Linked DNA regions of Homo sapiens: regions 2 and 3 are each linked to region 1. The links come from fine-mapping of genetic effects on gene expression. A gene starts in region 1. Each other region holds a variant in brackets. All regions are shown on one strand. Distances are between the middles of the regions. Region 1 holds the start of TMC2 (transmembrane channel like 2). Region 2 overlaps TMC2 (transmembrane channel like 2). Region 3 overlaps NOP56 (NOP56 ribonucleoprotein).

What was found. PIP is the estimated chance that this variant, and not a neighbour inherited with it, causes the effect. A credible set is the group of variants that fine-mapping cannot tell apart.
Region 2: its variant is the best candidate, but not a certain one, in a credible set for the expression of TMC2 in neural progenitor cells (Aygun 2021, PIP 0.89).
Region 3: its variant is the best candidate, but not a certain one, in a credible set for the expression of TMC2 in fibroblasts (GTEx, PIP 0.53).

Annotation. Positions count from the first base shown.
Region 1 is chr20:2,534,046-2,539,265 of GRCh38, reverse strand. It overlaps TMC2 (transmembrane channel like 2), which reads right to left and starts at 2,693. Exons shown (of 20, transcript NM_080751.3): 1 at 2,611-2,693; 2 at 1,950-1,997. The coding sequence starts at 2,644. It overlaps LOC105372504 (a long non-coding RNA gene), which reads left to right. Exons shown (of 3, transcript XR_937204.3): 3 at 4,656-4,738.
Region 2 is chr20:2,613,636-2,618,855 of GRCh38, reverse strand. TMC2 (transmembrane channel like 2) reads right to left here. Exons shown (of 20, transcript NM_080751.3): 15 at 2,652-2,719; 16 at 1,545-1,784. LOC105372505 (a long non-coding RNA gene) reads left to right here. Exons shown (of 5, transcript XR_007067502.1): 4 at 271-350; 5 at 4,724-4,810. Among named protein-coding and RNA genes, the nearest start is that of NOP56, 36 kb to the left of the region's middle. The variant G/A (reference allele first, on the strand shown) is at 3,008.
Region 3 is chr20:2,657,468-2,662,687 of GRCh38, reverse strand. It overlaps NOP56 (NOP56 ribonucleoprotein), which reads right to left. Exons shown (of 12, transcript NM_006392.4): 12 at 4,295-4,759. The coding sequence ends at 4,394. It overlaps IDH3B (isocitrate dehydrogenase (NAD(+)) 3 non-catalytic subunit beta), which reads left to right. Exons shown (of 12, transcript NM_006899.5): 5 at 1,719-1,779; 6 at 1,859-1,991; 7 at 2,098-2,231; 8 at 2,323-2,425; 9 at 2,512-2,658; 10 at 2,895-2,989; 11 at 3,103-3,163; 12 at 3,851-4,293. The coding sequence ends at 3,937. Among named protein-coding and RNA genes, the nearest start is that of SNORD57, 3.1 kb to the right of the region's middle. RefSeq lists an enhancer at 1-195 and a silencer at 4,138-4,338. The variant A/G (reference allele first, on the strand shown) is at 2,846.

The DNA.
Region 1 (5,220 bases):
TTTTTCTCTTTCATAATCAGTTTTCAACAGACTCCACATAATGCATAATTTAGGAACTGGAAAGGCAGCTGTCTTGCTAGGAAGGCCTCCAAGCCCAGCACACGCTCTCCTAAATGTAACAGGCCTCCTCCTATGTAGCACCTGACTCGGTCAGAGAATTCACAGTGCAAAACACAGGCCGAGGAGAGGCTGCGGCAGCCCTCCAGTCCCGTGATCTCAACAGTTCAGTGCACTTACCAAATGATACAGGAGGAGGGAGAGTTCTCATCCTTCTTTTCAAGGAACACAGTAACAAACTGTAGCTATTCTGAGAAAAGAACATTGTATTCTTAAACTTTTATTCCCTCCTGGTAGAGTATAAAGGGAAGGATGAGAATATCAGGTCCCGTCGCAGGTGACTCCAGAGGAGATTTAAAATGGAAACCTTCATGGGGCTGGGTTTCAGTTAATTCAATATATTCCCAATGTTTAACTTTACTGCACCCCTTCACCACTTAGATCTGTGAAGTGAAAATTCTGACCAATTTCCTGTGTTCTATGGGAAAGGGAAAACGGCAGCGGCAACGTGGAATATTTCAGTAGGAAAGGGTTTGTGTTGTAGGCAAAATGGTCTTCCATTTCAGTCCTACTAAGGACTACTGCTCACAGGGGAGTCCCGCACAGCACAGCCCTGCAGCAGAGGCAGAGGGAGGCCAGGCTGGGTGCGGAAGGGACGGCATCTGGATGACTACGAGGGGAGTGGGGTGTGGAGAACCAGCCTGAGCATCCTACAGGCAGTGGTCACTACGGGAGCACCGTGGCCCGACCCCCGGGAGGAAGGTTTCTCGTCTGGCCACCCTGGGGCATAGAACTTTCTCACATTTGCTCCTTCATCTTTGGATTGAGATAAAGAGTGGATGAGGCAGGCAGGTGGGGTAGGAAGAAGGGACAGTGGCTGAGGCAAGTTCCGGGATAGGGGCCAGGAAGGGCTGTTGAGATGCCATGGCTGCACCCCCTGCCAGCCTCTGCCCAGCTCTTCCTTGCCTCCTGCTCCTGGGTCTCTCCCCTTGTAACACAGCGGCCTCACTGAAGCTCAGGCTCCCGACAACCAGACAGCAGCGGGTCACAGGAGCGGAAAGGGCAGATGAAGTGGCTCCTGGGGCCAGCTCCCTACTGGCCAGAGTGGGGCCAGGACAGGGCCCTCCCACAGGAGGGAGTGGAAAGGGCCCTCCCTCCCAGAATGGGGGAGGAAGGAGATCTCTTCCAACCCCCCAGAACCCCATCACTCCCCAAGATTCTGGTTTCTTGCCTACTAGTGTGGGGCGCAGGACCCAGCCCTGCCTGGGACGTGAAGGGGGAGAAAACAGCATCGCATCCATAATATTTTGTGACATGAAGATGCCCAGCCTGTGAGTGTGGCTTCTGCCCCTCTCCCCTGAACCCTCAGTCTCAACCAAGGGTTTTCTCTCCCGCCTATGGCTTCCTTGGGCTCTCCCACTTCTCCTGGAGCAAGTTGGCTCCCTCACCGGCTCACGGGAGAGCTGTGGTCACATTCCCAGTGGGAAGGTGATGGAGCACCCATTATGCCTACTACTTTTTGGAGGTTAAGAGTGTTCCTCCTAGAGTCCGGGGGCCTGGATGTGAATCTGGCCACACCACCCGCCAGAAGCCTGCACCGAGCTTCCCTGCCCTCTGTCTGGTGAATGTTCACTGCTTCCCAAGGCTCAGCTCAGAGTGTCACTAACCCTGGGAGTCTCCCCTGACACCGAGGGCTGAGCAGCACCTTCTCTGAGTGGTACTCTGCCCCCTCCCATGTTAAACACCTTGCCTCCCAGGAAGGCTCCATGCAGGGTGTTGAATGAGAGGGAAGGAGATGAAGGAGAATGTTGGATGGGTGGCTGGACTGTTGGGCTAAGCAGAGGGCACCCAGGCACTGCAGGCTCCCCAGAGACCCCACCACCCCATCTCACCTGTGTGTGGAGAGCCGCTCTTCACCCGCCCTTTCACTCCGCCTCGTGCTGTAAGAGACAGGATTGCTGACAAATGGCTGGCCTCTGGTGAGTCCCCCTCCCTGCAGACCCCCGGTCACTGTGGGACCCCTCAGCTGATTTGTGGCTGCCTCAAACTGGGACCCAGCTCCAATGATTTTACTCAGCAAATTATAGAGTCCCCTGCCTGTCACATTTGTCTGATACTGTCAGTCATGAGGTCAGAACATCCCCCACCCCCTGCCCTGCACAGAGACAGAGACAGATAGAAATCTGCTGAGGGGCTTGCTCGGAACAGGCAACCCTAACCGAGACAATAGGTGGCTGAGACGCCCCAGCAGGCTCTGAGGAGCATGCATCGGCCGTGACAGTCTCCAGTGCTGGCCTGAACACAGGTGCTGTGCACAGGTTGTCTTGAATCCTTCCAGTAGCCCTGCAAGGAGGTGATGACTACCCCCATCTCATGCGTGAGGATCAGAGAGGTTGAATAACCAGCCGAGGTCGCTCAGCGCACAGGGGACAGGCCCTGGACTCAAACCCAGCTCCTCCCTATGCCTCTGAACACCATATGTGCTTCCCCCATCCCCTGCTGCTGCCCAGGAACCCTGTGGGCGGGCCCCGCAGGATCAGGACGTGGACTCACCTTCCTCTTTCAGGCCCTTTACCTGGTGGCTCATGGTCAGCAGCACTGCTGGGGTCCTGCACAGGCTCACGCAGCGTGCTCCTGTATGCACGCCTTCAGCCTGGGCTGCTTTCCTGCCCTCATGGTGGCTGGCCTCCCTTCCTAGACCTGACAGCAGGCGGGGCTTCTTGGTTTGAGATTGAATGTGGAGGTGGGTGAAGTTTGGGGGAGAGAGACGGGTGAAGGAAGGCGACGAGTTCCCGGCCCATCAATCCGGCCACACACTCCTCTTCTCAGGTTTCCCTGCAAAGAGGCAGCATGGCCTCATGTTTCAGGCATCAGTTATACATGAGGGGCCCTGGAGGGGCCAGGAGCTGCAGGCTTATCTCCTGGCAATGATGCCGCTGGCACTCTAGCCAGAGGAGGTGTGAGGAGCATCCCAGGCCCTCTCCCACTATCTTGAGTCCCTGATTGGGACAAAGCACCAGGGAAATTCTAGAATGTTTGTTTAAGTTATTACTTGGGCTTCTGTTTAAAATGCAGATTCTGGCATGTGGTGGTTCACACCTGTAATCTCAGCACTTAGGAAGGCAGAGGCAGGAGGATTGCTTGAGCCCAAGAGCTCAAGACCAGCCTGTGCAACGTAGTGAGACCCCATCTCCACAAAAAGAAAAATAATAATAATAAATTTTTAAAAATAAAATGCATACTCCCAGGAGTGGCACTGGGCGTTGGAATCAGTCAGTCTGTGCCAGGCCCTGGGAGCCTGCACTGTGGATCCTGCTGCAGGCGTCCTGAGCCCACACAGATGAATGTTCCCGCTCAGCCCCCGCCCCCTCCCTCAGCAGCTTTTCCTCCCTGGCTTCAGGGAGGCACAGATTTGGCTGCTTTGAAAACCATCACTAAAGTGTCAGAGGGACCCTCTGGAAGGCAGTCATAAGGTCTCAGAGTGTGGAGTTCTTAATCTGGAGTCCCTGGAACCCCCAGAGCTGTGGATGGAATTCTGTGGGTTTGTGAATAGTGATGGAGAAAATACTACACTTTCACTTTTCCTAGCCTTAACTGCGATTTAGCATTTCCCTCAATCATGAATGTAAGCAAAGATGTGATTTTTGTCTCAGCAAAAGTCACAGTTATTTTTTTTCCCAATTAAACCACTGGGGATGTCTCAAAATATCTTACATGTTATCACAACTTCAAAATTATGATAGTTAGAGACCTGCCATGAAATCTTGTTATTTAATTAGGAAGCATATATTGTCATTATATGAAAGATATTTAAAGTGATTTTGATGCCTATTTCAGGATCATTGGTCTCCTTTGTAATCCTAGTGTTTTATTTTATGGATTTAATGTCTATGTTCTGAAAAGCGGTCTGTGGCTGGGCGTGGTGGTTCACGCCTGTAATCCCAGAATTTTGGGAGGCCAAGGCAGACGGATCACCTAGGGTTGGGAGTTCCGGACCAGTCTGGCCAACATGGTGAAACCCCATCTCTACTAAAAATGCAAAAATTAGCCGGGCGTGGTGGGATGTGTCTGTAGTCCCAGCTACTCAGGAGGCTGAGGCAGAATTGCTTGACCCAGGAGGTGGAGGTTGCAGTGAGCTGAGATTGCACCACTGCACTCCCTGGGTGATAGAGTGAGACTCTGTCTCAAAAATAAAAAAAAATATAAAAAGGGGTCTACGGACCTTACCAGGATGCCAAAGGATTCTATGACACAACAGAATAAAAAGCCTTCCCCAGGGCAAGTCTCCTGTGGGTGTCAAGGACAGACCTAGCCTCTGATCATGCCCATGTACTTTCTCAGGGGTCAGGAGTAGGAGTGCCTGTCCTCATGCAAGCTTGGCGAGGGAAGGGGCAAAGGAGCTACCTCTAAAATGCACGTGCAACGGTTCATCTCAAGCTTTGAAGCTTTTCTCTTTGTCCCACACCTTGATCTCCGACCCAACTGGTTCCTGCAGGGCCGCCCCAGTCCCCGGGGCATGAGGGCAGTGGGAGGATCTCAGTTGCATTCTCTGGCATCCATACTGCAGGACTGCAGCCGCAAATCCCTCTCCCCACCAGGGCCATGCCAGTGCAGGACCCCGGTCCATGTGAGAAGCAGCACGGGCAGCTGTGCAGCCACAGGACAGCGTGGCCCAGAGGACTGGTGAGTAAGGTTTCTGCTGGGGGTGCCCCAAGCGCTCTCCCCTGATGAGTGAGGACCCCCAGCAGCCCTTTACCCTGCTCTTTTTTTTTTTTTTTTTTTTTTTTGAGACAGCGTCTGGCTCTGTCGCCCAGGCTGGAGTGCAGTGGCGCGATCTCGGCTCACTGCAAGCTCCGCCTCCTGCCTTTACCCTGCTCTTGTTGTTCTCTGTTGCCAGAGGAGAAAGGCTTTCTACAACACCTTCATCTCCGGAGAGAAATTCCCTCCAGATAGGACTATCAAATTCCCTTGTACCTGACTGTCCACACAGTCGATAACTCCACTTTTCTCCTCACAGATAAAAATGAGCACCCACTGGGGTCAGAGTCAGTTCTCGGCTCTGGGGATTCATCAGCAAATGAAACAGAGACCCTTGTCCTCAGGGGCTGATGTGTTTTTGCTGTCTGGTGGCTGGGTTTAGCCCTTGGTGTCTGAAGGAGTGAT
Region 2 (5,220 bases), 80 kb before region 1:
GATTCTTCAGAGCCTTTAACAAAGGAGTGTGCATTGAGCATTTCTAAGTGAGATAATGGCAGACAGAAGGGGCAGTACGTCCTAAACTGCTTTAACCACAGAACCTCTCTTTACGGAGTTGGCAGAGGGCTTTGTTTTCAGAAGGTCAGGCATTTGGAAAGAGAACAGTAGATGCACATTATCTCTTGATCTACCTCCTTACATAATTATTTGTCTTTTTATACAATATCTAGTCTCCCAACTAGCTTGACTTATGTATTGAACCCCCAGGCCAATGCTCTGGAGAGCAGAGAGCTCAGTTGAGGTCTGTCAAGAGTCCACTGCAGCTGCTTCACATTTAAACGGCACGTGTAAGTGTATGGTAATTCATCCTCAGAATATCCACCATTACTTATCCTATGGTAAAGTAATCCCAGGTAGTAAGTTATCCATGTGTTAAAAGGGTAGAACTGTGCTGTCGAATATGGTAGCCATTAGCCATGTGTGGTTATTTTAATTGAAATTAAGAACGAAATCCTGTCATTTGCAGCAACATGGATGGAACAGGAAGTCATTATGTTAAGTGAAATAAGCCAGGCACAGAAAGACAAATATTGCATTTTCTTACTCACATGTGGGAGCTAAAAAAGTGGATCTCATGGAGGTAGAGAGTAGAATGAGGTGATCAGAGGTTGGGAAGGATAGAGAGGAGTGGGGATGAAGTACGGTTGGTTAACTGGTACAAATATACAGTTAGATAGAGGGAAGAAGTCCCAGTGTTCCATAGCACAGCAGGGAGATGACAGTTAACAATAATTCATTGTATAATTTCAAAGTTCCCAACACAAAGAAAAGATAAATGTTTAGGCCAGGCACGGTGGCTCACGCCTGTAATCATAACACTTTGGGAGGCCGAGGCAAGTGGATTGTTTGAGGCCAGGAGTTCAAGGCCAGCCTGGGCAACATGGCAAAACCCCGTCTCTACTAAAAATACAAAAATTAGTTGGGCATTGTGGTGCATGCCTGTAGTCCCAGCTACTTGGGAGGTGGAGGCATGAGAATCGCTTGAACCTGGCAGGCAGAGGTTGCAGTAAGCTGAGATGGCACCACTGCACTCCAGCCTGGGTGACAGAGTGAGACTCTGTCTAAAAAGAATAAAAAATAAATGTTTGATGTGATGGATATCCCAGTTACCCTGATTTGATCATTATATATTGTATACATGTATCCAAATATCACATGTACCCCCAAATATGTACAACTATCAGTTAAAAATTAATAAATAAATGAGAAAAATACATGAGAAATTAATTTTCTCAGTTCCTCATTTCAAGCACTCAACGGCCACAGGTGGCTGGTGGCTACTGAAATGAACAGCGCAGACACAGAACGACCTAACATTTCCATCCTGGCAGAAAACCCTCTTAAATGGCATCGGTGATTCACCCAAAGTTCCATGGCCTTTTACAGGCTGGCATGAAACCAGAACTGGAATTCTGGGCCGAGGCCCTCTGAGCAGACTGCCTCGGGAGGGGAGGTGCTCCCGGGCAACTGAGACTCTGCACCTGAACGGCCCGCAGTCAAAGGAGGGTGGGAGGGACATGATGGTGTAGGCCACCGGCAGGAGGCTGAGGAAGAGCACCAGCAGCAGGAGGCCCATGTAGAAGTTGTTGGATCGGGAGGCTTTGAACACGCGTTCATGGGGTACGTTGCTGCTCATCACCGCCCAGCACTGGAAGTACATGGAGGTCAGCAGGCGCAGCACATTAATGCCCACCAGGCCTGGAGCATAGAAGGAGCCCATCCTGGAATGGCAGAAACCAAACACCTGGTTGGCTGGACAGCAGGGAAGGCGAGGGAAGGGTGATAGAAGGAAATGGGACGGATGGGTTAGGGGCATGAGGCCGAGCTGCTTTCCTGGCAAGTCCCCAGGTAAGGGGCCTCCCATTTAACCAGAATATCGATCATCAAGCCAGAACCATGCAGTCCTCAGGAGAGGGAGGCACTCCGAGCATTCCTGGCTTAAGCTCTGGCCAAGATTTTACCACTGACTCGCCCCCAGGCATCTAGCAAATTATACGGTCTCCTGCCTGTTTCTCCTCGGTTTCCATAAAACAGCATTGCTGCTCAGAAGAGTATTTGAAGTCCTTCAATTGAGAGAATTGGACAGTGGCTTGCAGCGAGCCCTTGGCACCTTGAAAGTCTTTGGCTGAAGTTATGTACCTCCTTGAACTCCCTTTTCAGAAGAGGGAGTTCCATAGTTCATTTACCTTCCACCTTCTCTTCCTTCTTTTCTCCCTCCCTCCTTCTTTATTTTCCTTTCCTCCTCTTTTCCTCCTCTTCTTTACTCCTTCCTTTTCCCTTTCCTTTGTCTTTCTTCCTTCTTCCCTTTTTCTTCCCTCTTCTCCTTCTCTCCTGCCTTCCTTCCTTTTCCTTTTCTCCTCCACCAACCCCTCTCCCTTTCTCTCTACTTCTATGGTAGCACATGGGTGGGCCAGAAACTGTCCTGCTTCTCATCTAGTCCCGCTCTTGATTTTTCATGTGAAAGAGGGGAGTTCAGAGAGGCAAGAGGACTTATCTAGCCTCTTCCAACTAGTTAAGTTGCAAAGTCTGGGATTCCAGTTTTTTGACTCCTTGGATGAGGCGATCACCAGATGAAATGGATAACTCACCAGATCATTCCTTGGTTGAAGATCAAACCCAGCACATTTCCACTAATATCAAACTCAGCATATGAAGGCTAGAGAGGGAGGGAGGGAGCGAGAGAGAGAGAGAAAAAAAAAAGCACGTTTGGTGAATTCAGCCAAACCCTACTACCAACCAACTGGCCAAGCCAAGGCCATTCCATCCCAAAGAGCCTGCTCTGGTAACTAGAGAAGAACCTTAGATTTAGCATTCTATTTCTTTAATATGTTTTCAACTTTTAAACAAAAAATTTGACATTCTCAAAGCTGAAACTTTAAAAATGCCTATTTCAGTAAACAAAAAAATGACAGTTTCTATCTTTCAGGCCTTGCAGGCTGACAGC[G/A]TGTTCTTGGGAAGACCCTCGCCTCTAACAGAACATTTTATCAACGTTTTAATCAGAAACATACCCTGAAATTATAATCAAGGAGAAATCTAATAAATAATGAAATGCAAATAATTAAATGAGGAGTCAAAAGAAAAGAAAGCTTAAAAACAAACAAAAACCAAATCATCCTTCCAACTCTTCTTTCTCCTTCTCTTCTTCCTCCAGTCTGAGAGCAGTTCACGGAAAGGAAAGCACCCAGCTTGGTTCATATTTTCAGCCTACCTCATTTGCAGTTTTCGTGATTTGTCCGAATATTTGAAAGAACATAAAATCTGTGAGCACTGAGGATATGAGGGTCCTCATGAAGCATGCTAAAGCCCACATCCCAATTTGTCTTCCAGAAATGGAGATAAAGGGAAATGAGAACACAAGAAGGAGAGATGAGAAGTTAGGAAAGAGACAAAGGAAGGGCCAGCATGCATGGATGGAAGAAGGAAACATGCATACATTAAGTCCACGGGGTGAAGTCTTGGATGTTTATTTATTGAGACGGAGTCTCGCTCTGTTGCCCAGGCTGGAGTGCAGTGGCACAATCTCAGCTCACTGCAACCTCTGCCTCCTGGTTCAAGTGATTCTCCTGCCTCAGCCTCCCAAGTAGCTGGGATTACAGGTGTGCAGCACCATGCCCAGCTAATTCTTGTATTTTTAGTAGAGATGGAGTTTCACCATGCTGGCCAGGATGGTCTTGAATTCCTGACCTCAAGTGATCCACCCACCTCAGCCTCCCAAAGTGCTGGGACTACAATGTGAGCCACCGCACCCCCACCCAGAATTTAAATTTTAATATTTTAAAATGTTAAAAAAAACACATATCTACTGGGTTTCATGTCCTACTTAGACAAATCTTCCTCACTCCAAGATTCTAAGTTTGTACATGCTTTCTTTTAGAAATTTATATTTTCATTTTTTTGATGTTTAAGACTTTGATGTGCCTAAAATTAATCTAGATGAAATGAATGAGGGATATAATCCCCCACATTTTTATATAATTTATATATATTTTAATATAATCCTTTCCCCCCAGTGTGTTTGAAAGTCTCCCTTTATCATAAACTAAAGGCCCATGTAGATAGTATCTATTTCTGGACTTTCTATTCTGTTCCATTGACATGTTGGTCTATTTTCTAGTACCAGTTTTAGTTATTATAGCTTTATCATATGTTTTAGTATTATGGTAAGTCTAGTTCCTTTTATTCATCTTTTTATTTTTTCTTTATATACTTTTTGAGACAGGGCCTCACTATGTCGCCTAGGCAGGAATGCAGTGGTGTGATCAAGGGATCAAGGGATCCTCCTGCCTTAGCCTCCTGAGTAGCTGGGATTACAGGCATGCACCAGCACACCCAGCTAATTTTTTATTTTTTGTAGAGATGGGGTCTTGCTAAATTGCCCAGGCTGATCTTGAACTCCTGGACTCAAGCAATTCTCCTAATTTGGCCTCCCAAAGTGCTAGGATTACAGGTGTGAGCCACCATACCTGGCCTTATTCTTCTTTTTAAATATTTTTTCTGGATATTCTCACATGCTTATTTTTCAAATGAACTTTAGTATTATTTGGAAATCGTGGTGATCTTACAAACAAATTTAAGAACAATGACCTCTTAGTAATATTGTGTCTTTCTATCAAAGATGTCATCCTCTTTGAGCACAAAGTTCTTTCATCTTCGTTCTCAGACAAGATTATGAAGCTTTCCTGGCTGCCGAGGAGCTCAGCAGACTTGTTTAAAACTGAGACTGGTGACTGAACGAAAAAAAATGTGACAGAAACCTGTACTGGGGCCCTTACCTGGGCCAGGCCAGGATGAGGGATACATAGGTCAACATCCTACGGAGCCTTTCACCAGGAGCTCAGGTAAGAGGTAGGTACCTTACATGCACACCAGTGACTGCAGGCTGGGCCAGTGAGGTGTTGTGGAAGAGACATGTACAGCACAGGTGCCTGAGCCAGAGATTCTGCCAGAGCATAGAAGGACACTACAGAGAGGAAATGACACACATTTACCAGGTAGGTGGGGAAGAGGGCTATAAGGGAATACAAGTCAAAGGAGGTTTCTCAAAGCATCATCCAGAAGACAGGACCAATGGTTATTGTGTTCTTGGTGTGTTCCAGGACTTCCTGAAATATTCGCCTCCACTGTCAGATTTCAGCCCCCATAATGAGAGTTGAGGCT
Region 3 (5,220 bases), 120 kb before region 1:
CCACCATGCCCAGGCTAATTTTTGTATTTTTAGTAGAGAGAGGGTTTTACCATGTTGGCCAGGCTGGTCTCGAACTCTTGACCTCAAGTGATCCACCCACCTCTGCATCCCAAACTGCTGCGATTATAGGCGTGAGCCACCGTGCCTAGCTGCCCCTTTTCTTTTGTCTTCCGCGCTTTAATCTCCTCATTTGATTTTTTTGGCTTCTAGTTCTGCCCCTATAGTTCATCTTCCATATCTCTTCTTGGAAAGAACAGCCTGATTTTCCAGGCCCAGCCTTACCATAGGAAAGTCAGTACTTTATAAGTTGGCCCTTAATTTTCTGCCTTGGTTCCACAACTCTTGTTCTGTGCTTCAATCACACTAGATTGTGTGTTAGATTCCAAATATGTACTACCTGACTTATATTGTTCCCTCCACCCAGAACGTTCTTTCTTTGGTGCTACCTGTTAGAGTCCTTCTCACTCATTCACTGTATTAGTTTCCCATAGCTGCCGTAACACACTACCATGAACCTGGTGGCTTATCATTAACAGAAATGTATTCTCTCACAGTGCTGGAGGCCATCAGTCTGAAATTAAGGTGTTGGCAGGGCCCTGCTCCCTCTGAAGGTTTAGGGGAGAAACCTTTCTTGCCTCTTCTGGTGGCTCTTGCTGTTTTTTGACTTGTAGATGCATCACTCCAATATCTGTGGTTTTCTTCCCTCTCTGTCTCGGTATCATTTTTCTCCTCAAATATTTAGCCCTGGATGGGACGATTTTTTCTCAAGATCCTTAACTTAATTACATCTGCAAAGCCTCTTTTCCCAAATAAGGTCACATACATAGGTTCTGGGGCTCAAGGCATGGCTGAAGTGCCAGCTCTTCTGTGCTGTATCCTGATATTACTGGAGAGGATTTCCTCTTTGTGTTGCTATGCAAGTTTCCCATGGTACTTATCATGTCTTTCATATTTTCTGTCTTTCCCAGTGTACCGTTTGCTTCTCAAGGGCAGGAGTTGTATGGTTTTAGTTGTTATCCTTATTGCCTGACATATAATTGATATTCATCAGTAGGTGTTGGGTTAAAAAATGTCAAATAAGGAGAAGGCACAGATAAAAAGATCACAGATCTGCTAGCATTGTTTTTCAACTTGTTGTTAAACCCAGGCTCTTTTTTGATAAATAGAAAAAATCTGTTCTCCGTTTTGAAGTTTCAACATAAATTAAATATGTTGACTAAAAATAAAGCATTAAGGCCGGGGCGGGTGGATCACTTGAGGTCAGGAGTTTGAGACCAGCCTGGCCAACATGGTGAGACACTGCCTCTACTAAAAATACAAAAAATTAGCCAGGTGTGGTGGCACATGCCTGTAATCCCAGCTACTGGGGAGGCTGAGGCAGGAGAATTGCTTGAACCTGGGAGGCAGAGGTTGCAGTGAGCCCAGGTCGTGCCACTGCACTCCAGCCTGGGCGACAGAGTGAGACCCTGTGTCTCTCACACACGCACACACACACACACACACACACACAGAAAATGCAATAGATGAAATGTTTCTGGCTTTAACTACATTATTCTCTTTTGTCCCTTGCCCCCAGAGACAATTTAAAAGTTTACTGATGTGGGAATGGGAGATGGGAGTCTGGGTTACATGATGTTCCTAAGGGGGTTAGACACTGGTCTGAGTTCCCTTGGGCTTGGCCTGTGGCTGACACTCCTTTTCCCACTTTGTTTTCACAGGAAAGATTCATACCCCGATGGAGTATAAGGGGGAGCTAGCCTCCTATGATATGCGGCTGAGGTAGGTGGTCTGGGTGGGGTGAATGGTTGAGAGGTGCCAGGGCACCAGGAGCAGAGCTGATGGCCCTGCCCACCCTCAGGCGTAAGTTGGACTTATTTGCCAACGTAGTCCATGTGAAGTCACTTCCTGGGTATATGACTCGGCACAACAATCTAGACCTGGTGATCATTCGAGAGCAGACAGAAGGGGAGTACAGCTCTCTGGAACATGAGGTGAGGCCCCAGAAACTGGGGGAGGGCAAGGATGAAGATGGGAGAGAGGTGGAGCTCCTTGTTTCCCTTCCCAGTGTCACCTAGCTGCTGCTTTCTTCTTACCCAGAGTGCAAGGGGTGTGATTGAGTGTTTGAAGATTGTCACACGAGCCAAGTCTCAGCGGATTGCAAAGTTCGCCTTTGACTATGCCACCAAGAAGGGGCGGGGCAAGGTCACTGCTGTCCACAAGGCCAACATCATGTGAGGGGCATGGCTTTGTGTAGGATGGGTTCCTGGGAAGGTAGCCCCTGTACTTTCTTGGCTGATTCTGTCCCCTTTGGCCCATGGACAGGAAACTTGGGGATGGGTTGTTCCTGCAGTGCTGTGAGGAAGTTGCTGAACTGTACCCCAAAATCAAATTTGAGACAATGATCATAGACAACTGCTGCATGCAGGTGAGGCCTCCCCACATCTCTACTCATGGGGCGGAGGAGGAGGGTGGGGAGTGGAATTTACTTCATGCCTGCATCTCACCCTCTAGCTGGTGCAGAATCCTTACCAGTTTGATGTGCTTGTGATGCCCAATCTCTATGGGAACATTATTGACAATCTGGCTGCTGGCCTGGTTGGGGGAGCTGGTGTGGTCCCTGGTGAGAGCTATAGTGCAGAATACGCAGTCTTTGAGACGGTGAGGCTGCTTTCTCCCTCGGCCCTTCCTCTGACCTCAAGTCCGCCATTCCTCTCCCATCCCAATATCTCCACTTCCTAAGTGATCTTGGCCTGTTCTTCCCCCACGCTGCCCACCATGCCTCTTTTCAGTGACCCTGGCCTGAGCTCCCCCTCCCATAATGTCCTTTTCCAACCTAAGCCTCTGC[A/G]TACCCCTCCTGCCTCCTCCCAGTGTCTAGCCTGCCCCTCTCTCCACAGGGTGCCCGGCACCCATTTGCCCAGGCAGTGGGCAGGAATATAGCCAATCCCACGGCCATGCTGCTGTCGGCTTCCAACATGCTGCGGCATCTTAAGTAGGTCATGGGAGGCTGTCGGCAGAGGTTGGGTGTCGTGAGGAGGAGCAGGTGGGGAAATTAGCGGGAGGTGTCTTGGGGGAGTCACAGTTTCTTCCTGTCCATATCCACAGTCTTGAGTATCACTCCAGCATGATCGCAGATGCGGTGAAGAAGGTGATCAAAGTTGGCAAGGTGAGTTGAGAAGAGTAGTGCTGGCTTCAGGATTTAGAGTAGTTCTGGTGTCAGCACCTCGGCACTACCCTCTGGGGAACCTGAATGGGGGTCTCCTTTCCCCCCAGGTCCCCAGAACATCTGCTCCCTGACATCCCTGCATCCCTCTCAGGGCTGTTCTTCATCTCCCTTCTCTTGGCTGTTTCATCCTCTTGATCTCTTTTGCCTCTTAGATCCCATCTGCTGTTCCCTCTTTCCTGCTCCATCCACTGCCCTTTTCATGGGCCATCTGAATGCAGAACTTGCAGCTCTCCTTGGGGGTGGAACAGCAAGGGATACAGGCAGGCTGAAGCATCAGCTTCACCTTCACGCCCCATCTCCTTTTCGCTGTGATTCTTTCCTTCCACCTGGTCTTGTCTCTATTTCTTCCAAGGAAGGTAGCCACATCCTGCCTCTGATCTGCGTTTCCCATCATCTTTGCCTGCTCAGCCTCCTGTCCTGCCCTGGCTGCAGCACAGCTAATAGTGGCTTAAGAGGAGTGGCAGGTCCATGTGCTTCCCATCCTGGCTCCTCCTTCCATTCCTGTGCATTGCCTTTTTTCTGGCTGTCACGCATTCTTGGCTTCCATTTCCTCAATCACATTGCCCTACCTCCCTTCATGGGCTCTCTTTTCTCCCTCCCCACGGCTGTTGCCGGTGGTGGCTGTAGGTGCGGACTCGAGACATGGGCGGCTACAGCACCACAACCGACTTCATCAAGTCTGTCATCGGTCACCTGCAGACTAAAGGGAGCTAGAGCCCTTTATTTCTTCCAACCTTGCAAGGACCACACTCCCCATACCCTTCAGTGCAGTGTACCAGGGAAGAGACCTTGTGCCTCTAAGCAGTGGACCATGGTCACCTTGCTGGGTAGAGCCTAGGTTGTCCTTGGGCCGGCTTCCTTAGGGGACAGACTGTTGGGTGGTGATGGGGATTGTTAGGATGGAGCCCAGGCCACATGGATGATGATGATTCTCCCCCACAGGTTCGAACCTCTGACATGGGTGGCTATGCTACTTGCCATGACTTCACTGAGGCTGTCATTGCTGCCTTGCCCCACCCATAGGCCCTGTCCATACCCATGTAAGGTGTTCAATAAAGAACATGAACCAACTCTTGTGAATTTGTTTTTATTGGGGAACACGGCACAGGGTGGGAAATGTCACCTTGGGCTATGGTATGCCCCACCTCCCAGAGAATGTCCATTTGCATTCTAATCTTCCTGGGATGCTTTATGGAACTTTTTCTTCTTCTTGGAGCTGCTCTTGCCAACCGCCTCTTCAGGCCCACTGCTGACCGGCTCCTCTTTGGAGAATTTCCTCTTTTTCTTGGAGCCACTTCTGTGGCCTGCCTCCTCAGGGTCATTAACTGTTTCCTCCTTGGGTGTAGACTTCTTCCTCTTGGGAATACTGGTGCTGCCAGCGGTCTCTTCAAGATCGCTACTCATCAACTCCTCCTTGGAAAAAGATTTCTTTTTCTTGGGTTTGGAGAAAGAGATAGATGGGTCTTCCATTCCATTCTCCTGAGGAACCTCCTGGGGCTTTTGCTTTTTCTTCTTTTTGGGTTTTTCACTCATCTCCTAAAGGGAAGGACAGGGGAACAGGCTGTGAGAACAGTGCTCATTACATCTTCAGCAATTAAGTAGCCAAGGCAGGGGAACGCGTGTCGTTAACATTGCCCAGTGTTTCTGGGATAGTTTAATTGTGTGGGTATAACTTTAGAAATCCACCCCAAAGGCTGTCCCAAATTAGAAGGAAAACATGTCATGAGAAATTACCTCAGCCCATTAAAAAAAAAAACCTAAAAAACACCCACCATGCTGGTCGCAACAGAACCATCATGCCAAGTTCCAGACAGGGCCCTGAAACACTGTTTAAGAAACTGGGTGCTAAATGAAAATCTCAGGGAGAATGATTGTAGCTTAGCACATTGGGGACCTCCCTGCCCCCATCCCCACTGTGAAACACGACCACCTCCGGACACACGTCTGATAATAAGCAGAGCAGGAATTTACACTACCCCAGGTTGAGGACTCCTGGG